7 separate regions of the Homo sapiens genome follow, and regions 2, 3, 4, 5, 6 and 7 are each linked to region 1. The links come from fine-mapping of genetic effects on gene expression. A gene starts in region 1. Each other region holds a variant in brackets. All regions are shown on one strand. Distances are from middle to middle. Region 1 holds the start of LPAR1 (lysophosphatidic acid receptor 1). Region 2 has its middle 80 kb from the start of MIR7702. Region 3 has its middle 97 kb from the start of MIR7702. Region 4 has its middle 38 kb from the start of LPAR1. Region 5 has its middle 30 kb from the start of LPAR1. Region 6 has its middle 110 kb from the start of MIR7702. Region 7 overlaps LPAR1 (lysophosphatidic acid receptor 1).

Region 1 (4,069 bases):
GACCAAATAAAGAGGAAATGAAGTGTTTTATAGCAAATAACTTACTGTTGAATACACATGTCTTGTACGGACAGGCCTCCCAATTTGATGTTAGAAGGGGCCACAGAGTAGTTAAGATAGTCAAAACAGAAGCAACTGTATTCCTTAAGAAGGTAAGAGACAAAATCAACATATTAAAAATATTCAAGTTGAGTGGTAGGTAAGAAACTCCTTTTACTTTACCTTTGATTTATGGGGAAAGGCTAAACATGGAAATAATTAATTTTAAAATGTCTTTATATTAGATATAGAAGTATTGGTGTTAAGAAATCTGATAGTAAGTACAGTGTATAGGAAGAAAGAGACGGGAAAATTAGCTAATAAGTGATTTTTTGACTTGAGTAGAGCTATGGTTAAAAATATATGGAAACCTCTTTCGAGTATATTTTTTTCTTACCAATATATACTTTTTATGATACTGAGATTTTATAGTGAACATTTGCCTATTCATCCCAATATAATATTTCTTATAGTTTGGTATCAACCCCTATGATTATTTGTGAGATAAGGGAGTGGTTTGTATTCATGGGTATACATATCTATACACATTTCTGCATGCCGTACACAAACATAAGTAGCATTGTGCATGAACATATTAGCACTGTGCATGTACTAAAATTTCAATTTTTTCACATAGTAGGTTATAAAATAAATCATATATTCGTAGGAAAGGTATAGAAAGCAAAGTTATTTAAAGTGGATTTTTAAAAAAGATTTGAATGATTTTTTTTAAAAAAAAGATTAGAACCATTGTTTTTAAAAGGAAACAGCTTTAGATAGTAAATTATTTACAGCCAGGACTCAGCCCTGAGCATCCTGTGAAAACCACACGAGCTTGGTCAAGGTTCTAAGCAGTCACCGGTGGGAGATGGTCATGGTCCCGTCACAGCATAACTCACTTGAGGCTTGAAAAGTTTCCGTCCAGCTACGGTTTGCAGTGACCTTTCTCTTCTGCAAAGCCCACGGTTACCTGGTGGCCACCACCAACATAGCCCCGCCTCGCTGTCCTGCGTTTCTCTCAATCAGATCAGTCCTGCCGAGTCCCCATGCCTTACTGCTGGTGTGCTGTGTCCTCTGTGCCATTTCAAGGCGAGGGCTCATGAAACTTTTACTCACACGCTGCTATTTTTGATATGCGGTGGCCTTAGCTGTGGAGCGAGAGGCCGATAATTGTGATCACTCCGGAAATCCTGGGAAGCCAGAAGTGGGAGATGGGTGTTGTGAGGTGGCGTGGCTAGGGAGACCCCATCGAGTGGGTGTGTTATAAGACCTGGGCGAATCCCTGTGGCTGCCACTCTCCTGAGAATGTTCCCTAGGCCTTAGTCCCGCGCCGCTCCCACCCACACCTCCAGGTGTGCAGTCCCCGCCCTTAATTACTCTCACTAAAATTGATAGTTTACACTTGCAAAGCTACACTGGGAAAGCGGAAGAGAAATTTATAATCGTGGATATGGAGAACTAGGGGAGCAGACACACTTGCTTTCGTTTACAGATCCAGTGAAGTGAAAAATCAGAACTAGAAACGTATGCACCTTCCTAGCAGCAAAGCCGCTTCTGCGTTCTTCGCAGCCTCCAGTGCAGGGCGGCGCTGGGAGAAACTTTGCGCCTTCTGGAAAGTTTAGAAAGTGAGCCACGAAAGAGAGGCCACATTTCCGGGGTTTTGCGGGCCCCGCGATGTTTTCCAGAGCTTTTCGAGTGGGAAGAGGAGAGCGACAACGTGAAAATGCCCCGTGCCGGGGCGTCCACCGGAGTCCTGCCAGCTGTCCGGCGCTGGGGTAAGCGCAGGAGGGGCGGGGGTGGGACCCGAGCTGGCGGCCACGGGTCTCCCGCTGCGGGTGTGTCGACTCGGGGGCGGGGCGGGGGAGGCTGCTGAGATAATGAATGGGAGGCTAAGGCCACCCCCCAGCCCCGGCCCTGCCACCACCGTGGGCTGTCGAGCCAATGAATGGAGGAGGGGGCGCAGAGGTCAGGGGCGCTGGGGGCGCCACACCAGGTAAGGGGTCCAGCTTGGGAGCGGGGAGGGCGGACTCTGGGGGTTCGGGTGTTGCTGACTTGTGCTACGTGGAACAAGCAGAAAAGAAGGAAGGCGGAGGAAGAGAGGAGGCTGGCGTCGGCGCTGCTCCTCTGGCCCTCCCTCTGCGCCCCCTCCTCCTGCCAGCGCGCCAAAGCCGGGCAGTAGGGGCCGACTGGCGGCTGACGCTCCCTGAGTGGCGACTCCGTCTCCAGCCCCGCTGCGGAGCGCGGGCCGGATCTGGGGCGGCCAGGGCCCGGAGCCGCGGAGCCCTCCCCGCCGCCCGGCCGAGCACGGGACCCCGGCGGGGTGGGCGCAGGGGGCGGCCCCGCTCTGGGCGACTGCCGAGGGGCGGGCGGAGGGCCGGGCTCGGCTGGCGGTGGGGCGGGGGCCGCCGGGACTGGGCGCGCGGCCTGAAGCCAGCCCGGGGGCGGCAGGAGAGGGACGCGCGGCGGCAGCGAGCGCAGGTAAGGGGGCCGGCGCGGCGTGTGGGGACGGCGCCCCCTGGGCGCGAAGCCAGAGGCCGCGGCGACTGCTCGGCCCGCCACACGGCGCGCTGGGCTCACACTGTCCCGCCGCGGACGGGCTTTGTGGTTGGGGGCGCGCGTGCGAGTGCCAGTGAGAGTGTGGGTGCGCGCTGTGGGCCGCGGCGCGGGTGGGTGGCCGTGCGTTCTTGCGAGCCGGCCTGCAGGAGGCGAGGCTCCCCTGGCCTCCCGCACCCAGCGGCGGACCGAGCCCCTGGAGGGAAGTTGCCGCAGCCGCCCGGGCCGCCGGCCCTCCTGTCCCGCGCCAGGTCAGTGCGCCCCGGGGCCCGCCCAGTGACACGTAGGTGGCCTCCGGTTACCTGGGTCGGGGTGGGTGCGCGGGAGGGCTTGCGAGGGGCCCTCGAAATTCTCCCAAAACCTCGTCCCGCTGGACTTGCACCTCCGAGGGGTCCCTGCGCCCCTGGGGCTCCGCACCTCTCGCTTCCCACTGACGACTCGGTTGTCCCCCACCACCGGGCTGAGGACTTTTAACTAAGTTTCTGTCCAGCCGCCTAACAAACGTGCTTAACAAGTAACAGGAGGTTGTAAGGCAAGGGAGGGACCTGGCTTTGAAAGTTGATGGTTTTGAAATCGACGGCTCCTTTGACTTGCGTAGGACTCCTTTGTGGTGAATGGATTTAAAGTTTATTCTTGTTTTTCTTTGCTGCCATTTGGTCTTTGCAATGTTAAGAGTGAAGGCATTCAGGACTTGCTGCTGCCTGCTGTCTGGGGCCTGAGGTTGTGGCTCTCCGCTTCTGCTCTCCTCTCTTCATTTTTGTTGAAATCCGTGGATTTTTTCATAAATGTGGGTGCTGGCTTGTTTCACTATGGACGCGTCGTTTCCTATGGGGTTAGATAGATATTGGTAAACATAAATATTGAAAATGTGATGATCACATATTGATGATCACAGCGAAATCCTCTATTCCTTCAGGCTCTAACAGTTTGTTTTTCACGTATTTGCATAAGTGTGTTTGCTCAGCTAAGCATAATTGGTAAGCCAGAGGTCTGTGATTCAGAGTCTGCAGTTCTGGTTAAGGGGAGACTGTACACTTGGAAAATGCGAAGTTTTTTAAGAAGTTATTCCCTTGCCGGATAGAAGAGTGGGTCCCAAGGAAAAAGGGTGTATTTTAGAGGTATGGTTATTTGAACCAAACTAAACATCATTAAAATACACAGGGAGGTAGAATGTCACCTAGTTCTTTCTGCCCTTGATTTCCATATCCCAGTAGGAGCGAGTATAATTGCCCCAAATGCAAAATTATGAATAATAATCAGCATTGTAAGTATATTAAGGTTGCATTTTTTTCTTGATACTTGTCTGATTTGAGGATAAAAACACCAAGTGGCAAGAGAAGGAGGTAGCTTGAGGCAGGAAGGCACGGGCGAGGAGCGAGGAGGGAAGGCTGGGTTGTCATCATCCGAGCCCGCAAGGTACACCACGTCCCCTAGCGGCGCGACCTCAGCCAGTCGGGTCAGCTCAGATCCTGGTCTC
Region 2 (4,069 bases), 150 kb before region 1:
TAAACTACATCTTGTTAATTTTCATGCATACTATTATTAGGTAAGGATCAAACTTTATCAGTCTTAAAATTTTTTTGCTCCAGTGGAAGCTAGTGATCTCAACATTTGTTAGAATGTTTACCACATTTTCAGTGTCATGTGACACCTCTGTATAACACATTACATTCCCATATGTACTAGAATCTGTTTTCTGGCTGCATATTCTGTTTCACTGATCTGTTTGTTCTGGACCAGACCTGTTAGGTTTTTAGCAAAGTGCCTAGAAATATATTAGTATATATGTACTTTAACAACTTGCCAAAAGTCTGGAGGTTAAGATAGAGTTTGACTCATTTGAAAAGTTGTTCATATTATTGGAGTACAGGGGAAAGGAGGAGAGCAGGTGAGATGGGGGCAGTGCCTGGAGATGAGGCTAGACACATAGGCAAGACTTGTAAGTCGAGCTGAGCAGTTTATACTTAATTACAAGGGCAATGGAAAATTATTTTATTAAAAGCTTTTAAGCGGAGAGTGGTAGGATCAGATACAGCAGGCCAAAACAATTGTATTCAAAATAAACTCAGTGGAAAGCAAGAGCCCAAAGTCAGAAATAACCATAAGAATTTAAATCCCTTAGGAATATGCAAGATCTTGGGAGGAAGCACTGGACTTCCCCAGTGCTGATCTAAGGGTGAGCCCAACTGACAATTGGTCACAGAGAATGGTTAAATAAATGGTGGAACATTCACAGTTTATTATTTTCCATATTAAAATAAACCAGTATCTAATTCCTACCTTACCAATTACACTGTAGGAGAATTTTCAATGGCATAGAAGACAACAACTTTGTGGCAGATTGTTAAATGAAACTGGAAAGTTATCTTTGGATAGATAACCCAGAGATATATGGGTGATTGTAACTTTTTTCTATTATTTGAATATTCTTTTAATAATTTGTTATACATTTTATAATTAAAAAGGAAAAAATTACTCTAAGATAAAAAAGACACTTGGATTCTGTATTTTCTGAATTTTTGTATGTCTGGAATGATTATTTTTTTCTTTCACACAGGAATAACTATTCATTTAGAGATAATCTCATGTCACAGCTTTTCCCCTAGGAAATCCTATAGACTTTTCTCTATTAGTTTTTTGCATTTTTTATTGGAGAGGGTTTTGAGGTCACACAATGTCTTTTTATGGGGGTACAGGGTATTTCTTTGTTGGTGTGGTAGTTAATTTTATATGTCAACTTTACTGGGCTAAGGGATACCCAGATAGCTGGGAAAATATTTTTTTCTGGGTATCTGTGAGGATGCTTCTGGAAGAGACTGAATTGAATTGATAGACTAAGTAAAGATCTACCCTTCTCAGCCTTGAGGGGTATCATCCAATCTGTTGAGGTCTGGAATAAGATAAAAAGGCTGGGACATCAGAGCTGCTGCTTGGTTCTTCAGACTCTGAGACTTATACCACCAGCATCCACTCCCCTTCCTTACTCTACCCTTCCTTTTTTTTCCTCTTCCCTCCCAACCCCCTCAGGCCTTCAGACTCTTTTCCATTGGTTCTCCTAGTTCTCAGGCCTTTGGATTCAGAATGAATTACACCACTGGCTTCCCTGGTTCTCCAGCTTGCAGGCAGCAGATTGTAGGACTTTTGGCTTCCATAATTACATGAATTGATTCCCATAATTAATTATATATGTATCTATATCATATGTATCCCTCCTATTGGTTCTGTTTCTCTTGAAAACCCTAGTACAGTAGGTAACATCCCTCTAACT[C/T]TGAAGACTTATAGGATATTTTCTTGATCTTTGTAATTCAGAAATTTTGGCATGGCTCTCTTTTTGATAATTTTACCTAGAATATGCTAATCACCTTTGATATGCATAATCTAATCTTTATATATTTTAGCTCAGAAAAGTTGTAACTTCTAAATTATTCTGATTTAGTTGGCCTTTCCCTAATGTTTTGACTGGATTTTTATCTAATTTCTCTATATTTATAAAATCATATAGTTTTCCAGTCTGTGTCTTTACAGCTACATTTTAGGATGGCTCTTCAGGTTATTTTCTACATTTGTTTCTTTGCCATATACTTTCCTTTCTTAACTGACTCCATTGTAGATTTTAATTATCTTTCAATGCTAGTTTCCTTTTTGTTCTTCTATACCTCACCTGGCCTCCTATTCATCTCTAAGTATTGTCTTTGCATCAAATTTTGTTGAACTAAGTTGTTTCTATTCTCTCTCTTTGTATTTGCTCTGTCTTCTGGCATCCTATTAAGGATGCCAAGTTTTCTAAAAATTTCCTTTGCTTCCCACCATTTTTTTTTTGAAACAAGTTCTCACTCTGTGGCCCAGGCTGGAATGCAGTGGTGTAATCATAGCTCACTGTAACCTCAAACTTCTGGGCTCAAGTCATCCTCCTGCCTCAGCCTCCTGAGTAACTAGGAGTACAGGCATGTGCCACCACGTTTGGCTAATTTTTTTTTTCTTTTTGTAGAAACTGGGTCTTGCTACATTGCTCAGGCTGGTCTCAAACTCCTGGCCTCAAGCAATCCTTCCACTTTAGCCTCCCAAAGTGTTGGGATTACAGACGTGAGCCATTGTGCCTGGCCTCCACCAAATATTTGTAAGAATAAGTAAGTCGCTTCTAGTCATCAGGGTGTATTATCTTTTCCTTGTGATGCATTATGTTTCCATAGAACCCACTTAATATTGTTTTTCTTCTGTTTAAAAACATTTTTAACTTTTAAATTAAAAAATTAAATTTAAACAAAATTAAAAAGTTGAAGCAAAAATATTTTTTCTTCTTTTACAAAAATGGAAAGAGCTATTTAGACCTGGTGTTTATCATCAGTCAAGATGAGTGGATTATCCTTGAGTCTTTGCATTGTCTCACTGGGTGCCACTTAGCCAATATTTCACTGTACTCTACACATTTAATGAGCACATTCTGCTGGAATGAGGTATGCTTTTTCTCTTAGCTCTGTTCTCTGAAGAGCATGTGCAACATCACAGCCTGCATTGTATGTTCTTATCAAGGCTCCTCCTATTTCTGCCTTTGGTATCTGTCTCTCCTATGGAGCCAGAGTGAGAGAGTGAAGGATGAAGTGTATCTCCTGTTGTCTTTCAACTCAGCATTGCCCTTTGTTTCATATGATGAAGCTTGAGAATGCCTGAATTATTTTTTCTCAATCAAACTCCATTGGCATTTTAGTCAATGGAAATTAATTGCCTTCCATATATTTCCATTATAGTATCTATTAATCTTATTAATGGTTTCATAGTTTTCCAAATCTTCATCAGTATGTTAGTATGTTTTCAGGAAAGGTTGTTGTAGAAGTTGCTAAGCAGATACTAATTTAAAAATGTTAAACTATGTTTTTAAAAAATTTTAATTACATTATTTAATTTTTATGGGCACATAGTAGGTATATATATGGGGTATAAGGGATATTTTGACACAGGCGTACAATGTGTAATAATCACATCAGGGTAAATAGGGTATCCATTGCTTCAAGCATTTATTCTTTGTGTTACAGTCCAATTATACTCTTTCAGTTATTTTAAAATGTACAACTATTGACTATAGTCACCCTGTTGTGCTATTAAATACTAGGTCTTATTGATTCTATTTTTTTGTACCCACTAACCATCCCCACTTTCCCCCAACTTCCCACTACCCTTCCCAGCCTCTGGTAACCATCATTCTACTTTCTATCTCCATGAGTTAATTTGTTTTAATTTTTAGCTCCCACAAATAAGTGAGAACATGTGAAGTTTGTCTTTCTGTGCCTGGCTTATTTCACCTAACAAAATGACTTACAGTTACATCCATATTATTGTAAATGACAAAATCTCATGCTTTTTGTGGTTGAATAGTACTCCATTGTGTACAGGTACCACATTTTCTTTATCCATTCATCTGTTGATGGATGTCTAGGTTGCTTCCAAATCTTGGCTACTGCAAATAGTGCTGCAATAAACATGGGAGTGCAGATATCTCTTTGATATACTGATTTCTTTTCTTTTGACCATATACTAGCAGTGAGATTGCTGGATCATACAGTAGCTCTATTTTTAGTTT
Region 3 (4,069 bases), 140 kb before region 1:
AGAGCCAAGATCATGCCACTATGCTCCAGTCTAGGCAACAGAGCAAATCCCTGTCTCTAAGAAAAAACAAACAAAACAAAAATTTAAAATAAAACAGCTAATGGAAAATATTTTTAAAACTCTCTGTGCAGATACTGATAGTTCTCTGCTTATCTGTGCTGTCATTTTATATAATAATAGAATTTTTAATTGGGCCCATGGTCAACCAGTGAAAGAGTACATTTCCCAGGATCCCTTGATTCTGGATTCTAGATGTGGACATGCAATCAAATTCTGGTCAACATGGTGGGTCGCAGTGATGTTTGCAACTTACACTTTGCAAATCCTTTTCTTCCTCCTTATGCTTCTTCTGTGGGATAGAATGTGGTTATGATGCTAGGACCTACAAGAGTGATCTGAAATCGTGGTGGGAAACTGCATATTGTGGAAACTAGGAGTATAGCAAAGAAGAAAAAGACCAAGCACCCTCAGCCCTAGACTGTCTGCATGGACATACATATACCTCATTTTAGCCGCTATTGTTTAGGATCTCTCATTTATAGCAGCCAAACAGGATTTCTAACAAATATGCCTCTTTTCTTGAGTTAAGTAGGAAAAAACTCAAATTTGAGATTATTGAAAAATGATGAGGATATTGGATCTCAGATCTTATATGCTGGAAACTAAATATCCAGAATGTATTCTGTTGGTGCATTTTTTATTAAATAAGGAAGAATGAAAATAAGCTAACGCTCATCAAGGGGTTAGAAAATATTCAAATTAAACTAAGGAAAGCAAGAGAAAAAAATTAAAGATAGAAACAGAAATTAAGACAAAACAGAGAAACTGCCAATAAAGTTAAATATATAGGGTGAAAACAAAACATTGCAAAATAATTTTCTCCAAGATGGATACCTGAGTCAATTTTATGAGTTTTCTTCAAACCTTCTGATAACTGGCATTTGCCATGGCACATGAAATATTCCAGAGTCTACAAGAGGAAAGAAAGTTTCCTAATTTATTATACAATGCTAGCATAACACTGATAGCCAAATCTGACAAAACAGACAAAATTAAAACTCTACATTTATGATCACTGAGGCAAAACTTGCTAAAATGCTTACTATAGGAAAAAAATTCCATGGTTCCAATGACTTGGCAAAAAAACTACCTAAAATGTTTATGAAAGACAAGAATAAAACTATGTGTTTACTATATAAAGGCAAAAAACTACTTCAATATTTTACAAATCAAATGTAGAACTATGTTAAAAGAAAAATGATATTTAAGAATATGAAATAATAGTAGAAACACTATTAGCACAATGTATCATGGCATCACTAGATCAAAGGAAAAAAATATTTGAACATTTTTATAAATTCTGGAGATGCATTTTCTATACTTTTTTTTTTTTCTGAGACAGAGTGTTGCTGTTGCCCAGGCTGGTGTGCAGTGGCACAATCTCTGCTCACTGCAACCTCTGCCTCCCAGGCTCAAGCAATTCTCATGCCTCAGCCTGTAGCTGGGACTACAGGCAAGTGCCACCACGCCCAGCCAATTTTTGTATTTAGTATTTAGGAGAGACGGTGTTTTGCCATGTTGGTCAGGCTAGTCTCGAACTCCTGGCCTCAAGTGATCCACCTACCTTGGCCTCCCAAAATGCTGGTATTACAGGTATAAGCTCTATAAGTATTTTTTAATACTTAGAGATGCAAATTTGTATATCCAAACATGACAAAACAAGGAAAACTAATATGGTAGCAAACAGTGCTGTCTCATAACACTAACATCATATGTAATGGTAAATGCTAAAGGCATGTTTATCAAGCGCATAAAGAGGACAGGAACATTGGTTTTCGTTACTTTTTAAAGGTAGTTTTTTTGACAGTTCTAGCCAAGAACAAGGTAATAGTATTACCATTTCTCAGTGATATTTTGAATGTAAGCAAAAATGACAACACAAAATCCTAGAAGGAAAATAATAGAAATAACAATATTATTTTCCTCTATATGAAAACAACATTGGTAAGTATAATGGAAAAATATA[T/C]AATTAAAATGTCTGCAATACCAATTCTAGATTAGCTAAGGAAAAAAAAACAATGAGAGACAGACTCAAATAAAAATGAATAAATGGAGACATAGTATATGTTTCTAATAGGATGATCCAATATGTTATCAATCCTCGGGTTAATTTATATATTTAGTGCAACTTCAAGCAAAACCCCAACATGAATATTTTGGGCCTATCAAAATTTTTTTGGAAGTACAGGAAGTCAAGAATATAGAATAATACGTACAATAAAGATTTTTAGCATTGTTTACATTGAGGTAATTGATAGAGTAAAATGTACAAATCTTGATTTTACAGCTCAGTGAATTTTTATGAATGTATATATCCCTTGTGATTACCACACAAGATATAAAACATTTTCACACTCCTAGAAAGTTCCCTTGTGTTCCCTCCTAATCAACAGCCCCAACACAGAGATCATTATGACTTTTATCACCATAAATTAGTTTTGCCTGGTATTGAATTGCATAAAAATGGAAGCCTATAATAATACTCTTTCATGTCTCTTTTTGACAATCACCCATGTAGCTGTGTGTATCAATCATTTGCTCTTTCTTATCGCTATATAGCAGTGCATGGTATGACTCCATAACTTGCTGATTCATTTTTCTCTTGATGTACATTGTGTTATTTCCAATTTTGGACTTTTGGAAATAAAGCTGCCATAAACATTCTTGAGTACGTCTTTTTGTGGCTATATACTTTCATGTCTCTTAGGTATATACGTAGGAGTGAAATTTCTGGGTCGTAGGATAGATGAATGTTTACTTGATCAGAAACTGGCAAACATCTTTCCAAAGTGATTTTACCATTTTTCTTTCCGCTCTCCCATCATTGGATATGAAACCCAGTTGCTCTATATCCTCATCAGCACTTCCATTGCTGGTCTTTTAACTTTAGTCTTTTTGGTTGTGTGAAGTTGTATCTCATCATTTTAATTTTCATTTTCCTGGTGAATAATGACATTGAATATCTTTTTATTTGTTTACTTTCTATTCAAACATTTTGCCTTGTGAAGTGACAGATGGAGTCTTTTGCTTGTTTTAGTTGTCTTGTCTTCTCCTTATTGATTCGTAGGTATTTAAAAATATGTATGTTGGGCACAGATCTTTTTTTGTTAGGCATATGTATTGTAAATATTTTACCCCAGTGTGTGACTTGCCTGTTGGCTTTATTGATGAGAAGTGGCTTTCTGATGAGCAGTATCATTTTTGATTCAGTCTATTTTCTTTTAAAGTTAGTCCTTTTTGTATATTGCCCAATAAATCATCCGTCATCCCCAGGGTTGCAAAGATATTCTCATGTTTTCCTACCGACGCTTTACAATTTTAGTCTTCACATTTAAATCTCTGATACTTCCTTGAATTAATTTTTGTGTATGATGTAAAAAATGGATAAAGATTAACTTTGGTGGGGGAAAGATGTCTGGTTGTTCCAGCACCATATATTAAAAATTAAGTTCCAGTTTATAAACATGATAATCTCTCCATTTGTTTAGCTCTTAATTTTATTCAGTCATGTTTTATAGTTTACAGTGCTTTTGTCAGAAATCAAAGGCTCATATTTGTGTGGGTCTATTTCTCTAGTCTGTTCCATTGATCTATTTGTCTAGCTTTAACAACAATATAGCAATTGCCTTGTTTTTTGTAATTTTGTAGTAACTACTGAAACCTGGTACTGTAAGTTCTCCAGCATTGCTGTTCTTGAATTTCTTGGTTATATCAGGTCATTTGTATCTCCATATCAACCTTATAATCATCTTGTATATCTTTCCTAATAAAAACCTGCTGATATTTAGACTGGGAATATGTCGAATTTTTAGAGCAATATGGAGAGGACTGGCAAATTAACAATATTGAGTCTTCCAGTTCATGAGCATGATAATAAATTACAATAATATAATTTATTATTATAAATAAGATAAAATTAAATCTTATTTAATTTTGATAAAATTAAATAAGATTTATTTAGATCTTATTTAATTTTATTAAGTGATGTTTTATCATTTTTAGTTAAGAG
Region 4 (4,069 bases), 38 kb before region 1:
TCAACTAGTGGCAGCCCAGTGGGATGCCCAGTGGGAAACAGAGGAGTCACAAAAGGTTTCACCACCCAAAGATCTTGAAAAGAAACTTTATTTATTTTATTTTATTATTATTATTTTTTTGAGATGGTGTCTCGTTTTGTTGCCCAGGCTGGAGTGCAGTGATGTAATCTCAGCTCACTGTAACCTCCACCTCCCAGGTTCAAGCAATTCTCCCACCTCAGCCTACCGAGTAGCTGGGATTACAGGTGCCCACCACCACGCTTGGCTAATTTTTGTATTTTTAGTAGAGACAGGCTTTCACCATGTTGGCCAGGCTGGTCTCAAACTCCTGAACTCAGGTGATTCACCTGCCTTGGCCTCCCAAAATGCTGAGTAGGAAACTATATTTATTGGGCAGCTGTTATATGCTAGTTAGTGTCACATATATGTCACCTCACATAATCCTCACAGCAACACTGTGGGGTAGGTACTCTTATCCCATCCATTTTGAATGAATAGAAGTGCATTTTGAATAATAACTTTTCAAGGTCACATAACTAGTCAATGTTAGAATTAGCCATGTTATTTCATTCACTTTAAGATAGTTACTTGCCTTCTGAAAAATCTGTAAAAGAATTCATTTTATTTTATTTTATTTTATTTTATTGATACACAATGTACATATTTTCAGGGTGTATGTAATATTTTGATATGTTCATATAATATAAAACAATCAAATCAGGGTAATTGTGATATCCTTCACCTAAAACATTTCTCTTTTCCTAATGTTGGGAACATTTTAATTATTTTCTACTGGCTATTTTGAAATACACAATTAATTATTTTTTACTATAGTCACTCTACTGCTTCATCAAACAGTAGGCTTATTTCTTCTATCTAACTGTATTTTTGTACCCAATAATCAATCTGTCTTTATCTCACCCTCTCCCATCCCCTTCCTAGCTTGTGAAATAATTCTATTAGAGATGACAACAATTTTATATAAACAAGAATTAAGTAGATACATTATTGCTAAAAACCGGTCACTAAGAGAAACAGCAGTAAGTGGAAAGTAAATTTGTCATAGTGAGGACAATGATTGATAAGCTAGGAATTACATGCACTGTAAATGCCAATTTAGAAATAATCTAAACTTATTTGAGTGTTCAAATGAGGACTATGTGCATTAGAATAGTTTTTAATATAAAATTTACTCTCTTCCCACAACACAAGAGTACTCCCTACTAAATCTGGTATCTGAAACTGCAAGTATCCAGAGAATTCGCTGCCCCACCAAAGTTTCCTAGTAGTGAGATTTTGATGTGTCCTGATTTTCTACCCTAGAGCAAAGGAGGACTGTCTTTAATATTTCCCCATGATCTGCCTCTGAGAGAATAAGATTGGGGATGAGAAAGTTAGATTCTTACTCTCTGCAGTAACAGAGCTTTGTAGAAGCAAGTTGAGGATTATTTGTTTGTTTGTTTGCTTGTTTGAGATGGGTCTCACTATGTTGCCCAGGCTGCTCTCAAATTCTTGTACTCAAGTGATCCTCCTGCCCCAGCCCCGACAGTGCTGGGATTACAAGAATGAGCCACCACTGCACTCGGCCTGGGGAAGTATGTAGGACTGGGTTCACTCTCAGGTATGATTTAGCATTTTTTGTTTTCAGGAAATAGAGAGATGCCTTTACACTAAGAAGAGGAACTCACTCTAAAAATCTAATGATTCTTTTTTTTTTTTTGAGACAGTCTCACTCTTGTTGCCCAGGCTGGAGTGCAGTGGTGTGATCTCGGCTCACTGCAACCTCCAGCTCCAGGGTTCAAGCAATTCTCCTGCCTCAGCCTCCTGAGTAGCTGGGATTACAGTTTCCCACCACCACCAC[G/A]CCTGGCTAATTTTTGTACTTTATGTAGTAGAGACGGGGTTTTGCCATGTTGACAAGGCTGGTCTCAAACTCCTGACCCACCCACCTCGGGTTCCCAAAGTGCTGGAATGACAGCCGCTGTCGTGAGCCCCTATGCCCTGCCACATCTAATGATTCTTTGGTGTTGTAACGATGAATGTGCATAGTGCAGGGCTGTCTCTTGTAGTCAAGGACCAGTCCCCGTGAGCAGGGCTTGGATTATAATCCCCAGTAAGCAAGAAGAGGAAGTGAGTAAGAGAAAAATTTGATGAAGAAAGAAAAATACTAACAGGTTCCAGGTTTCCTTTGTTTTTCTTTCTTTTCCTTTCTTCAGCTTAGGGTGGGAGCTAAATCACAACTTTCAAAAGGTCAATATAAATGTTATTCCCTTAGGGCAACAGAGATGGAATCCTTAAAAATAAGTAAAAATAACCAAAAGTAGACATCTTTTGGAGAATTTTCAGTTCATGGACAGTCCAGAGAGAGTTGTAGGATTTCCTTTCCATCCTACCAGAAGCATACTTTTACTGTCTTCCCCACTAACAAATTCTAATAACTGCTAGGTAAAATGGTGGAAGTACAAAAACAAGAATATCATAGCAGCACAGGTCAAATTTGAGAAAGTTACTTTTCTTACACATTCTATGGCCGTGGGAGGAAATAGGGATATAGACCTGTGGGGAAATAAATGTCTTGGTATAAGAATACACTTAACAGGGGGGAAAGAAGTGACAACCTGTGAGATTTGCTACGTAAGGAGAAAAAAAATCATCTGCTGTCTTCATATCAGGCTTTCGCTCTCCTTTCCAGGCCAAGAGTACGGCTAAAAGTTATTTCTTGCTGAAAGGCTGCTGAGGGAAGGGGAATCCCATAGTTCCAGGGCTTGATTCCTGACTAAAACATTGTCAGTTCAAAACTTCCAGCAGTTCTTTGGTTTTGTGTGTGTGTGTATGGTGGGAATTAGGCAAACATTTTTTTGTTATGGGAAGACCACCACAAATACCCTATTCTGGATTGGAGAGGAGAGAGACCATGTAGTTTCAAGGAACTAAAATACTCTGCTATTCCTTTTTTTTTTTTTTTTTTTTTAAGACAGAGTCTCGTTCTGTTGCCCAGGCTGGAGTGCAGTGTTTCTATCTTGGCTCATTGCAACCTCCACCTCCTGGGTTCAAGTGATTCTCGTGCCTCAGTCTCCCAAGTAGCTGGGATTACAGGTGTGTGCAACCATGCCCAGGTAATTTTTGTTATTTTTAGTAGAGACAGGGTTTTGTCATGTTGGCCAGAATGGTCTGGAACTCCTGGCCTCAAGTGATCCACCTGCCTCGGCCTCCCAAAGTGCTTGGATTACAGGCGTGAGACACCATGCCTGGCCAGTACTCTGCTATTCCTTTTGACATCATTGAGGATAGAGTTGGATCTTTGCAGATTTTGTAACCTTTAAGAAAATGTTGCTTTTCTAAATATGATTTAGACTGTACTGTTTCTTAAATTTATTTATTATTCTTAGGAAGTGTGTGTATGTGTGCTTTCATAGTTATCCACAGGCCACTCACTGGGAGTGGGGTATAGGACTAGGAAAGACCAAAAGCAATGATACGATCAAAGTCTCTCAGAGATCATACTTGGAAACTCATGGTGCTAATTCAGTCAGAATAACCTAGACTTTTGGAAGTATCTTTAAGTCTGACTATTTTATCCTGAAGCTGATAGGCTTTAAATATGTGTTTCCTCTGAATCTCACGTTGAAATGCAATCCCCAGTGTTGGAGATAGGGGCTGGGTGGGAGGTGATTGGAGCATGAGGGTGGATTTCTCATAAATGATTTAGCACCATCCTCTTGGTGCTGCTCTTGCAATAGTGAGTTCTTGTGGGATCTAGTTGTTGTAAAGTGTGTGGCAACTTCCTCTCACTCTCTCTTTTGCTTCTGCTGCCGCCATGTGAGATGCCTGTTCCCTCTTCACCTTCTGCTATGATTAGAAGTTTCCTGAGGCCTCCCCAAAAGCTAAAATTGGCACTATGCTTCCTACACAGCCCGCAGAACCATGAGTCAATTAAACTTCTTATAAATTACCCAGTCTCAGGTATTTCTTTATGGCAATTCAAGAATGACATAATACAGATTCTTTTGTTATAGAAGTGAAGTTTCTATTGAAGAGACTCTCTGCCATCAAACAAGAAAATAATCTAGAC
Region 5 (4,069 bases), 30 kb before region 1:
CCTGGAGAAATTAATTAACCTATTTAGTCATTTGGTTCCTTTCTTCCTTTCTCCCTTCCCTTTTTCTTTTCTTAGAACTTAATGGAGTACACTGGGCTCACTTTCTTGGAGTTTCTTTTCCTCTCTTCTTTCTTATCTCCTTCTCCCTCTCTTCCTCTTCCTCTCTTTGTCCCCCTACTCCAGTTTCCTCATGCATATATGGAGAGAGAAAGTCTTCTTCTTTTCTTTTTTTGAGATAGAGTCTCGCTCTGTTGCCCAGGCTGGAGTGCAGTGGCGTGATCTTGGCTCACTGCAAGCTCTGCCTCCCAGGTTCATGTCATTCTCCCGCCTTAGCTTCCCGAGTAGCTGGGACTACAGGCGCCCGCCACCACGCCCAGCTAATTTTTTTGTATTTTCAGTAGATATGGGGTTTCACCGTGTTAGCCAGGATGGTCTTGATCTCCTGACCTCGTGATCCACCTGCCTCGGCCTCCCAAAGTGTTGTGATTACAGGCGTGAGCCACCACACCCGGCCCAGAAAGTCTTTTGCAAGAATTTTGTGTGAATAAAATTGAAGCAATTCTCTGAAGTGTATGGAACATTGTAGCTACTCAGTGGATGTTAATTTTCTGCTATCCTTTTAATAGTTTAGAACACTGAGGCTTACAGGTTAGGTGTCATCTTCGATGAAGAGATTTGGCCAAATTTAGGGGTTTTATTTATTTCCCTGGTTTGATACTTGCCTCCCCCCACCTCAATTACACTTCGTCACCACTCAAGTTTGAATGATGTCTACTAGGTAACCTGAATAGATCTGGTGATGCCACATCACTAGGCAGTTTCTAAAAAGGCAACTATTCCTTTCTGTTTCCTAGAAATGTGTAAAAAGTAGCCCTATCATGGAGACAGCAAGGCAGATGACCAATCAACTGTCCCTGAAGGTACATAATTTAATCCGGTGGTCGAATTAGATAGAAAAAAACCGTAAGATATTGTATAATAGGAAAGGACAGGCACTTAGATGATCTGAGTAGAACAGTGTAAGTATTTATTAATGAAAAAGTGTTTCTTGATGGGCCACTGGGATGGTGGAGCTAAGCTTTTGGAATCTTGTGGCTATAATAAGAAAGCTATTTTTTCCAACTTTGAGATAATATTTCATCTGTCATTTTCTGGCATAATTGGACATTAACAAGACATTAAACATTGAGCTCACTGATTCAGATTCACACAGAATAGAAGCTTCAAAAAGTCTCTTTTCTTGGGAGAGGTCAAGCTTATCTAAGCACTCTGAGACTCGTGTGGTGTTATTCACGCTGGACAGATGCAAAAGGGCACTGGCTCAAACTCCTTCTCTTTCTCCATTTGTTTTTTATAGGAAAATATACAAGGATGACCATGCCTGTGTATTGTACAAGTCAAGAGCCATGTGACTTGTGGTTTTATGAACTTAACTGGTAGCTCTTTCCAATGGGTAATATCCACCCCGCTCCTAGGAATATACCCTAGGGGCAGATATGTAAATTTGTTGATGGCAGACATGAGACATAGTACCTTTACTGAGGCTGTGGTCCCAGTGGTCAGACAAGAAACAGACATGCTGAGTGGTGTGCTCTCAAACAGTAAATGGAGGGATTGATGTCACTTGATAGTCCATATTTCACAATAAGGCACGAAGTCTAGCTCTCTACCCTTCAGAACTGAATCATGCGCACAAGCCTAAAAAAGGAAAACTAAAAGCAGAACATGAAGAATATGTTCCATTATAAGCTCAGGAGGGAGGTGAAAAGTTTAAGCAAATGAAAAACAGAATCATTGTCAACGGTTGGATATTGTGATTCACATACAAACGCACCAACTCATTAACCAACTGCCAATTGTCTTTTGGGGGCAGAAGAAAATATTACAAGATATAAGACGGATATTTAGCTAGTTTTCCTTAGCATAATAAAACGCAGGCTTTCGATCTTTTCCAACTCTTATGTGCTGTGGAGAAAGGGTTTTAGTAGAGAGTGAGAGAATAGATCCCTGCCACAGGGACACAAGCTGGTATAATCAGAGGAGGGAAAAGACCGTATTATTTAGGATAAACAAGAACGGGAGAGCAATTTAATTGGTTCCTGATGTTCCACATAACACAGGCCAGGGCTTTTAAAACCCAGTGGCTTATTTTTATTTGTGAATATATTTGAGTTTTTAAAAAATGGGTTTTCTGGCCGGGCACGGTGGGTCATGCCTGTAATCCCAGCACTTTGGGAGGCGGAGGCAGGCGGATCATGAGGTCAGGAGTTTGGGACCAGCCCGACCAACATGGTGAAACCCGGTCTCTACTAAAAGTACAAAAATTAGCTGGGCGTGGTGGCATGTGCCTGTAATCCCAGCTACTCAGGAGGCTGAGGCAGG[G/A]GAATTGCTCTGACCCAGAAGGCGGAGGTTGCAGTGAGCCGAGATTGCGCCACTGCACTCCAGCCTGGGTGACAGAGTGAGACTTCATCTCAAAAACAAAAAACAAAAAACAAAACACAAAAAGTCCCACAACAACGGGTTTTCCATCTGTGTTGGTGGAATTCCAGTCAAGGAACTTCGATGCTGGCTGCTTTCATCTTGTGATCACCTTTCAAAACCATAAAAAGGTCTTCTCTTTTCCTTTATGTAAAAGTACTTCCAGCCAATATTTAATATGAAAGGGATGTTTATCAGACTTGGGATGGGCATATTGAAGCTATTCAGAAGTTGATGCTTTCTTTCCCTGTCTCTTCTTTTTCTCATATACACACTTTTTTTTCCCTACTAGTCTCAGTGCCTTAACTATATTTCCTGTTGTGGATTTGTACAGCTGAGAGAGGTATAGGCAGAAATAAAATTCTTTTAAAAGCGAGTGAGAAGACTAAGAATTAAAGGGGAATTGCTGCGTAAGAGAGAAATGTGCATTAATTCAATTGCAAAACCTCTGACTGACAGTGAGCTGTGATTATTTCAGAGAGCTGACAATTTCAGTACTGTGTGTTTGCCAGATCTTGATCTGAAGTCCAGACTTAGAGGCGGTATTTGGAAGATAATTCTCAGTGGGTGCTGTTGTTACATTTTTTTCCTTCCTATCTCTAGGAAAGCTATGTCTATAAATTATTTAAATTCAGTAAATCAAATGGGTTTCTTTGTGAACTTTTGCAAATAAAAATGGAATTCGTTATTTTAAAAACCAACTGAGGATGATTAAACAGTTTTTTCACATGAAAGAAGTATCTAGTTTCTGGATCACGAAGCCTCATGACCTGAGACAACTCTAAAGCAAACTAACATTTTTCAATCCACTTTCCCCATAATGTTTTTTATAAGCTGTGATACTCATGAGTTAACTTACATATAATTAACATGTTTCTGATGCAACGTAAACATACTTGCAGCATTTGTGTTTATCTCAACCTTTAAAACAAAACACTCAGTGAAAGACATGCCTCTATTTTAAGAAAAATAAATTTTTGTCAACCTTAATTTACAAAATAAGACACAATAGGATGGATATTTTCATGTCAAAAAGAATTAATTACTTGACCAAAAAATTACTACACAATTTCTTTAAATTACAGACTCTGGCAATACTATTTAAGTATACTTTTACTAACCATAATTTCATCAACATGTAACTTTTCAGTAACAGATTGCAATAAAGGACCACAACCTTCTAATTAGTTGAGTTTTAACTATTTTTAATAAAACAACCACAGTCTTTGCCTGTATTACACTTCTGCAGCTGACAGTTTTTAAAAAGATTTTTTTCCATACTCTTCTAACACAGAACTCTAGTATCACATGGAATATTTAAGCCTTTTTTCATAAGGTCTATAGGATGGAAGCTTTCTTGAAAGATAATGAGCTAGTAAAATTATGGTGAAGGATAAAGGTGCCAGGACAATGTCAGCTTTTAAATATCTATTTATCATACATTCCAGATGATAGAAAAGAAATGCTGGAGCAAGAGGTCAGCTGTTTTAATGTTTCTCTCTGAATCAAAGAGGGGAGGGGACTTTATGGATCCCAGCTGTGCTTACTTTCGGGTTTCCTGGCTCGTTACCATTCTGTATTCTGTAGTCTA
Region 6 (4,069 bases), 120 kb before region 1:
AGGGCACTTGGGACCTACATCTGCAAACAACAAGTTTCAGAGATTTTATAAATCCTGCAGTAAAAGGAGAAGAAGAAAAAAGAAAAAAAACGGAGGTGAAAGGGCATAATTATGGAGGATGAGGAAGTACAACAAAGAACGGGCTTTGCAGGTTCTTTTTGGTTTGAAAAATAACATTTTCTAATGTCAAGGCCAGCCTTTGATTATAATTGACAAAACACACTTATCAAGCCTGATATGAAAACAGAAGGTACTGAAGCTTCCTTTTTGGACAGGATTTGGATGAAGGCTACAGAGTAGTTCAGGATCCACTGAACTTACCTGAAGATGCCTTTCCAGTCTTCCAGCAGTATAGCTGTTACCTTCTTGTCATCATTTCTTGGTTTGTAATATACTGGGTTAATTTTGCTTTCTGTTCACTGCTGCTTTTTAAGTACAGCTAGCACATGAAAGGAGTCTGCCTTAAAGAGATGGAAAAAGCTCAAGGCACAATGACATGTTGTAAGGGTAAAAAGTAGCTGCTAGACTGGCCTTAATATTATATGCCAATGATTGACATAAATCGGGATTTGTTTCTTCTCACTTAGGCTGAATGTTCTTCATATGGCACTTTATGTTACCCCTATTTCAACTCTCCCAAGAGGAAGTCTCATACTCCCCAGTTTCCAAATCGTCAAAAACATTCTCCTGTTCATGACCAAGGGTTCTCATTCTTTCCTCCTCTTGTTGATTCTGAATATTGGAAAGAAATGAGGTTAGATCAAAGAGAATAGAGAGGAACCATTACATTTCTGGTCATTAAAGAACATCGATCTAGGTTAAAATTCATCCTTTTGTCAGGATGTTATAAAATATTTTAGAAGGAAATACTGTGTGACTATGTGCTAGGCGGGTAAGTGGTGCTAGCAAGAGAAATCAGATGCATTCATAGTGAGCTATGTTACTTCCTGGGATCTCAATCACAGTCACACTCCTAATCATTGATAACAATGTTTGAACATTTACTCTATGCTAGGTGGTTTACGTGCATTATCTCATTTAATTCTTTCAGTAATCCTATGAAAGAGATTACACTTTTACCTCATTTTACAGATGAGCAGACAGGTGCATAGCAGTTAACAGCTCAAGGTCACTAGGATAGTAGGTACAAGGGAGAATTCAAACTCATCTTTTTGCTCATATATAACTCATAGATCAGAAGAATTAAGCCTACAGTCTTACCTCTTTTGATATATTGCCTTGAGTTTCATATGTTTGGATGTCATAGGAACTTTTAAAAGATTTAGCCAGAGTGATGGTCCTGATGACATCAGAGAAACACTTTTGATTCCTCCGAAAAGCAAAAATGTCTATGATACTTAGACTACTGAGTACAGAAAAAAAGGATTTTTTTTGTATCATACTTTTTAAAACCATAGACCTTAATATAGCTCAAAGAAAAAATGAAATTGGTTTTCAAATGCTTTTCTTGTTTTCCAGAGAAGGAGCTGTTTTCCATGTCTTAAGTGTGAATACATTCTTTTGCTGATTAAAAATCATAAACAAGTTTTTTAGTGTCTCAAGATCTATAGTCTATCTTTTGAAAGTCTGGGAAAAATCTCTACACTGGAATAATAATTATTCTTTGCAAAGCTGTGTATGCCTGTCCACAATGAGAAACACGTGACAAGGTGTTTAGTTATGGTTCCAATCCACGTGAGCTGGGAAGGACTTTCAAGTTAAATAAATCCTCACGTGTGTGACAAAAACAAGATCCAATATATTATACTATTGGTAATGCCAGCAAGGAAATCTGAGAAGAGAAGTGCTAATAAGGGTGGAAAAAATTTGAAATTTTTAATATTAAGCTCTCATTTCTTTCTCTTTCTGGTCTGCAGAATTAATAGCCTGATTATTGTAATTTCATTGGGTACTGCTAGTTTATTTCCAGTTTTGAGAATATTACACTGCTAATCTTAGAAAAACCAGTCTCTAACACGGAAAAAGCAAATTTAGTTACTCACAAAACTGTTTTCTTTCTTTAAAAGATCACAGAACTAATAAAGTAAGCGATCTCCCATCTTCCGGACCAGTGAATACAAGCTTGCATTAGATTGCTGACATCAGATGTTACTTTCATGATGCTGGAGTTGTAGTATGTATTACCTCTCAAATACATTTGGCATGAGTCAAGCATTTAAAAATTAAGTCCATTATTGATTCTTTTTTATCTTTTAGAGAAGCACACTAGTGTCCCATTTATCCAGCATGATTGGGGATTGAGATATTTTATTTAACAGATATTTACCCAGAAATTTTACCTTCTCAAATGCCAGTTTTAAATACTTGTGGCCAGATTTTATGGATATCTTTCTAGACTATATGAGTTATCTGTCTGCCTTCTTAAAAAGAAGATGCTGAATATAACTTCTTCTTATCTTCACAACCTCAGATCTTTGTTCTGAATGAAATTGACTGGTGCTAC[T/C]CTGTATTCTGTTGCATTGTAGAGTCACTGCTGATGTGTAAAAAGCTACTGAGGTGTGAAGAGCTGTGCTAAGGCTGACTAGACCAGGTCATTTGAGTTCTTGCAAAGGCCTTTGGAAATTGTGTGCGTATATGTGTGGGGGTGTGCTCTCTCTAGTACCATCCTCATAGTTGGTTGCTTCTACTCTCTGTTGCTGGAATACCTCACCCTAAACATGTGGCTCTGAGAGAAGCTGCTAAACTCTGCCTCGGTAAGCTGGGGCTTTGTGACATCTGTTTAGGTCATTTGGAGACTGTGGTTGTTCCATTTCTCATTCTGGATTGTGTAGTAGATATCCGAGACTGCCAGATTACTCACCTCTGAGTAAGCAGGCAATTTCTAATGTTATGCTTATTTTGCAAAATATTAAACAATTTCATACTCTCCATCCCAAATCTTTTTTTTTTAATCTGTTGTAGGCCTTACTTTACTGATGATACTACTATCTCTTTCAATCACACCCATCAGAGGCCCAGGTCATAGCATGGACTTTGGGGCACGTTATTTTAAAGCCCAGTATCTGAGTTTGTATTTCTTTTCCCCAACTTGATAGTTGCATGATCAGAATTAAGTGAACAGATATTGAAAACTTGAGTTACCTTTTGTTGCTCTTTGTTTCAAAAAAAATGTTTAAATATTTCCCAGATGATCTTTACCTATGGAAATTAATGGCAGCAATTGCAGCCTTTAAAAAATGTTAAATCATATATACATTGTTTCTGATAGGATGATCCAATATGTTATCAGTCCTCATCGGGTTAATTTATATATTTAATGTAACTTCAAGCAAAACCCCAACATGAATATTTTGGGCCTATCAAAATTTTTTTTTGGAAGTACAGGAAGTCAAGAATATAGAATAATATGTACGATAAAGATTTTTAGCATTGTTTACACAGAGGTAATTGATACAGTAAATGATCACAAGCTAAAACCCATTTAAAAAATATTTATTGGGTACCTGTTGTGTACCGAAGAGCATTCTGGGCTCTCGGGATAGAGTGCATGGAGTGTACAGCCTAGTTAGTTGACAACAAACGAGCAAGTAAATGTACAGGTGTCAAATGGTGGTAGTGCAGGAGGTGTGTGGGATAGAGTGTAAGTGGTTGAGATGAACTGAAGATGTTTATGAAAGCTGCTTCAGCAGAGTGGTTGGGAGGAAAGCCTGGTAGGAATGCATCCAAGAGAGGGTGGGAAGAGCAGAATTGGCGCCACCATGGATAGGCAAGCTTTTATAGAAGTTTTGTAGTAAAGAAAGGCAGAGATGTGTTATGGTATCTGGGGTAAATGAGGGTTTTGTTTGACCTTCTAGCATTTTTGTATGCTGGTATGAATGACTGAGCAGAGACAGGGAATTGAAGATGCAGGAGAGAGAGGGAACAATTGTTGAAGCAGTGTTGTTGTTGAGTTGGCAAGATGGATGAGATTGACTGCACAAGTGAAGGGTGTGGCCTCAGCTCAGAGGCTAACAGGTCATTCATAGCCCCAGACTGCTAAGAACAAGGCACACATACCAATATATCAGTAGATGTGGTAGCTGGTGTATGTCAATGCCTATTCTGATTG
Region 7 (4,069 bases), 160 kb after region 1:
AGGCCCATGGTTAGGGGGATTGTGATAGACTGAAAGGAATGGAAAAACTAATATGTCCAGAAAGCAGACATGCAGTGCAAGACAAAGCTTGGCGAGTAAGTAAGGACTCGTACTATGCAGGTGTTTTACACAAAAAGAATGGGAATCATACATCAGACTTCTCACCTGCAAGACTAAATACTAGAAGACAGTGTTCTGAGAGAAAATGATTTTAAGCTTATGCAAACTTTCTAGAAAGAATGCTCATGGATACACTCTAGAAAATGGGGGTGGGGGAGGGAGAAGAAAAGAGATTCCAAAAAAAAGATGTACGTTAGAAGAAACAATGTGCCACCTAGGTATGTAAAATAAGCAGCCCTCAGTGGAAGCTGAGAAGCAGGCCTAGAAATCAATGGGTTCGATTGGGTTAGTAAGTCAGCGGGCTGCAGGAAATGTCTTTGGGGATAAATTGTATAATTAAAAAGTTGGAAATACATCTGTGGCATGCTTCTGCTGTAATAAACTGTGTGTTTCTTATCTGTAACAAAAGAGAGAATAAAAAGAAAAAGCAGTTAGAAGTTCAAGGGAAAACAAAAATCTGTTCAAAAGTCATGGTGTTGAATCTGTTTTTTAGTAAGAGAATTAAGGGCATCACATTTATGATATCTAGTCACATGTTTGGGCTTATTCTTGACATTCTATTTACGTGTGTGCATTTCCTTGCTTTTGCTTCTGTCTTTTCTTTTCCTTCCTTTTGATAAATTGAGTTTTCTTTTCAAACTGTTTTGTTCTTCCTTCCTTTTTAAAAAATTTTTGTTTGTTTCTTTAGTGGTTTGAGTGGTACATCCAATATCTATTTTTAATAGTGGCTAACTTTAAATTTTAAAAACGTACTTTAAAAAATTCAAGATATAGGCCGGGCACGGTGGCTCATGGCTATATTCTTAGCACTTTGGGAGGCGAAGGTGGGCAGAACAGCTGAGGTCAGCAATTCAAGACCAGCCTGGCCAACATGGTGAAAGCCCAACTCTACTAAAAATACAAAAATTAGGCATGGTGGCGTGCACCTGTAATCCCTGCTATTCAGGAGACTGAGGCAAGGGAATCGCTTGAATCTGGGAGGCAGAGGTTGCAGTGAGCCAAGATCATGCCACTGCACTCCAGCCTGGATGACAGAGTGAGACTCAGTCTCAAGTAAAATAAAATAAAATTCAAGATATAATTCGGTTTCTACAGTAGCCCCCAAACAAGACAAAACTTTTAGCAAACTTTCTACTCTTCTGCCTCCTCTTCTTACCTTTTACTTAAGAAAAATCAAGACTTCTAGTTTCTTGTTGTTAAAATTTCTAAATTTATAAATATCTGAATATGAGTGAGTTGAATATATAAAAAGCACAAAAAGTAATACGGCAATCATCTAATGACCAAACATTAAAATCAAACATGCTAACATTTTACATAATTTGCTTCAGGTCTCTGAAAAGAATTGTAGATATAACCAAAGCACCGTCCCCTACTCCTTCCTCCTGCCTGTCATCTCAGAAGTTGTCCGGAAATTGCTGCTGCTTGTTCTCATTCATGTGCTTGCACTTTTATTATGTATCTGTGCACTCATTTAAAAAACCCTCACACTTAAAAATAATTTGGCCAGGTAATACAGGTTAAAATTATAGGATACAAATTCTGAACCTTCAAAAGTGTGTAGGAATTGTTCCACCATTCTAGAATTTGGTCTTCCAGGGTCTTCCTTATGCCCCTTTGAATGTCCTATAGCATCCATTTAAAGACCTTACACACGGTAGATGTTAATGTTTATTTTCCACCCGTAATTTAATGACATTTCTACTTATTAATTTTTCTTGTTTGGGATATATGTACTAGGCGCTTAGCTATGACTTGCTAATTCATCCAATGGAAGATACTGAGTGTCTGCTGTCGCCAGGCAATATTCTAGATTCCAGAGATACAGACATGAAAGAGGTAGCATTCCTTCCTTCATGAAGTTAATATTCTTGTTGAGGGAAGATAAAACAATAAACATGTAAACCAATAAATACAATAATTTTGGG[T/G]ATAAATAAAGGATATATCATTTGGGTATATCAGCATGTGATGATAATAAAATGGGAGAATGTGGTGATGGTGGTGGGCTGTTGCTCTGGCTAGGATAACCAAGGATAGCCTTTTTAAGAAAGCGACATTTAATAAGTAAATAGACATAAAAAGCTGCAGAGAGAGTAATCCCAGCAGATGGATCTATAAATGCAAAGATCCTGAGACAGAAATGGGCTTGGTCTGTGTGACTGGAACCTCGTAAATGAGGAGCGAGTGGAAAGAGATGAGATCCAAGAAACTAGCAGGGCCAGTCATGTGTAGGGCATTATGGATAGCAGTAAGGATTTCAAGTAGGAAGACTTTGGAGGGTTTTAAGCAGGAGAGTGACTTAGTGCAAATTGATTTATGCTTGTTTTGTACAAGCTGGACTTTAGGGAAGCAGTGTGGAGGAAGAGGAATTGGTTAAGAGCCTGTTGCAATTGGCAGATAAAAGGTATTGCTCACTTGGCTAGGATGGTAGCAGTGGAGAAGTGGTTTTACCTGGCTTTTCAGCACCTGAATGGTCTGTAAGAATGGCACTAGCATTCAAGTCATTTCAATGTGGACTTTCCAAGGTACAGTTGCAGGATGAGAGTTAGAGTCTGTTGTAGGGTATGGAACTTGTACGTGCGCAATACACACTACTTAATGTTAAGGAGAGTACACCAGAGGGAAGGCAGCTTTGGCATTCTCTTGGGCACAGGAAAGTAGCATTGTGGTGATCAGGAGAGTCTAATGAAGCTAAAACTGTCACCCAGGAATGTTAAAAAGAGAACATAATGAGTATTCTGCTCTGCTTTAGAGCTCTGTATGGTGTTATTATCCTTCTCTAAAAGATAAATGTTGCTCTCAAGAGTGAGTAATGAAAATACTAGAGCACATCATACAATAAATGAAATCATGAAACTTTAAATGTATGCAACATGTGCTGTGACCAGGAAGGAATGGCAGTGTTGAACACCAAACTAGATGGAGTAAAATTGGTATCAGGGTGGAAATAATATAGAACAATAATACTGTGGAGATACCTCAGGTAAATTATATAGTTTCAATAGTCAGGAAAAAAGATTTTTTAATTAATCTGGGTTATTCTTTTAGAAAAAGCGTTAATCTCAAAAAGCCATCCACATACACCCCCATTATAATGAACCCTTAGCTGCAAGACTGGGGAAGAATAAGCTTTGCATCTGTGGCCACTTTTTCTGACATAGGCTCTGTTAAGATACATAGCATTGAAGGATTTCCTAGCTAACTATGTAGTATGTGTGTACCTTAATAGCAGAAATCACAACGTAACTACAGAGATGAACTAAAATTTGATTAGATTCTGGGATACCACGCTGCCTGACCTGAGGGAATAAACAATTTAGGGAAAACAGAAAAAGCAACTTAGGCACTCATTTATTTTCTCCCTTGATTCCCACCGCAGGTCTCTGAGATGGGACTGTTTCTGGGATCCTCATTTGAAAAACAAGAAGAGTGAGGCCACCTTGGGCACAGTGCTGTTGTAGAATTGATTTACCTTGACTTGTTTTGGATCTATGGGATGTCTGGTTCTTTTGTAAAAACACAACTTTGCCAGCCAGACTAGAAACGCTTTCTGTGTTTTTCATCAAAAATCTTGGACACTGTCTCTAGAGGTCTTCTCTGGCAAGGACTGTTTTCCTCTTTAACTTTGGTTCTTGCATTCCATATGTAAGCAAAGTTCAACTAGTTAGGAAAAAGTCATTCTAGAAAAAAAGACTGTAATTGTGAGACCAGATGGTAAGCATTATTCAGCTGATGAGGTTGGATAGATTTGAGGGAAGGTGTGGTAATATGATCTCGATCTGCAGCTGTGACCTGTTGTTCCAAAACAGCCTCATTCCTCCCTGCCTTTTGCGTCTGCATTCCAGCACCTCTCCCTCCATCTTTGTGGGCATTGGGGTTCTCACAGATTGCTTTGACAGATGCATCAGGGAGGAATAAAGCTTGTTCAAGGAAGAACAACCCACGGATC

What was found. PIP is the estimated chance that this variant, and not a neighbour inherited with it, causes the effect.
Region 2: its variant is the best candidate, but not a certain one, in a credible set for the expression of LPAR1 in whole blood (TOPMed, PIP 0.79).
Region 3: its variant is the best candidate, but not a certain one, in a credible set for the expression of LPAR1 in blood mononuclear cells (TOPMed, PIP 0.57).
Region 4: its variant is the best candidate, but not a certain one, in a credible set for the expression of LPAR1 in monocytes after R848 (Quach 2016, PIP 0.61).
Region 5: its variant is the best candidate, but not a certain one, in a credible set for the expression of LPAR1 in monocytes after LPS (Fairfax 2014, PIP 0.83).
Region 6: its variant is the best candidate, but not a certain one, in a credible set for the expression of LPAR1 in whole blood (INTERVAL, PIP 0.59).
Region 7: its variant is the best candidate, but not a certain one, in a credible set for the expression of LPAR1 in whole blood (INTERVAL, PIP 0.75).

The regions. Positions count from the first base shown.
Region 1 is chr9:111,036,615-111,040,683 of GRCh38, reverse strand. LPAR1 (lysophosphatidic acid receptor 1) reads left to right here and starts at 2,214. Exons shown (of 6, transcript NM_001351411.2): 1 at 2,214-2,517. It overlaps LOC124902248 (a long non-coding RNA gene), which reads right to left and starts at 3,756. Exons shown (of 2, transcript XR_007061732.1): 1 at 2,895-3,756; 2 at 1-1,229. RefSeq lists a silencer at 2,445-2,784.
Region 2 is chr9:111,189,408-111,193,476 of GRCh38, reverse strand. No RefSeq gene overlaps it. Among named protein-coding and RNA genes, the nearest start is that of MIR7702, 80 kb to the left of the region's middle. The variant C/T (reference allele first, on the strand shown) is at 1,763.
Region 3 is chr9:111,172,597-111,176,665 of GRCh38, reverse strand. No RefSeq gene overlaps it. Among named protein-coding and RNA genes, the nearest start is that of MIR7702, 97 kb to the left of the region's middle. The variant T/C (reference allele first, on the strand shown) is at 2,027.
Region 4 is chr9:111,074,259-111,078,327 of GRCh38, reverse strand. No RefSeq gene overlaps it. Among named protein-coding and RNA genes, the nearest start is that of LPAR1, 38 kb to the right of the region's middle. The variant G/A (reference allele first, on the strand shown) is at 1,862.
Region 5 is chr9:111,066,581-111,070,649 of GRCh38, reverse strand. No RefSeq gene overlaps it. Among named protein-coding and RNA genes, the nearest start is that of LPAR1, 30 kb to the right of the region's middle. The variant G/A (reference allele first, on the strand shown) is at 2,383.
Region 6 is chr9:111,159,839-111,163,907 of GRCh38, reverse strand. No RefSeq gene overlaps it. Among named protein-coding and RNA genes, the nearest start is that of MIR7702, 110 kb to the left of the region's middle. RefSeq lists an enhancer at 1-2,838. The variant T/C (reference allele first, on the strand shown) is at 2,465.
Region 7 is chr9:110,880,160-110,884,228 of GRCh38, reverse strand. All of the region lies in intron 5 of LPAR1 (lysophosphatidic acid receptor 1), which reads left to right. Among named protein-coding and RNA genes, the nearest start is that of LPAR1, 160 kb to the left of the region's middle. The variant T/G (reference allele first, on the strand shown) is at 2,049.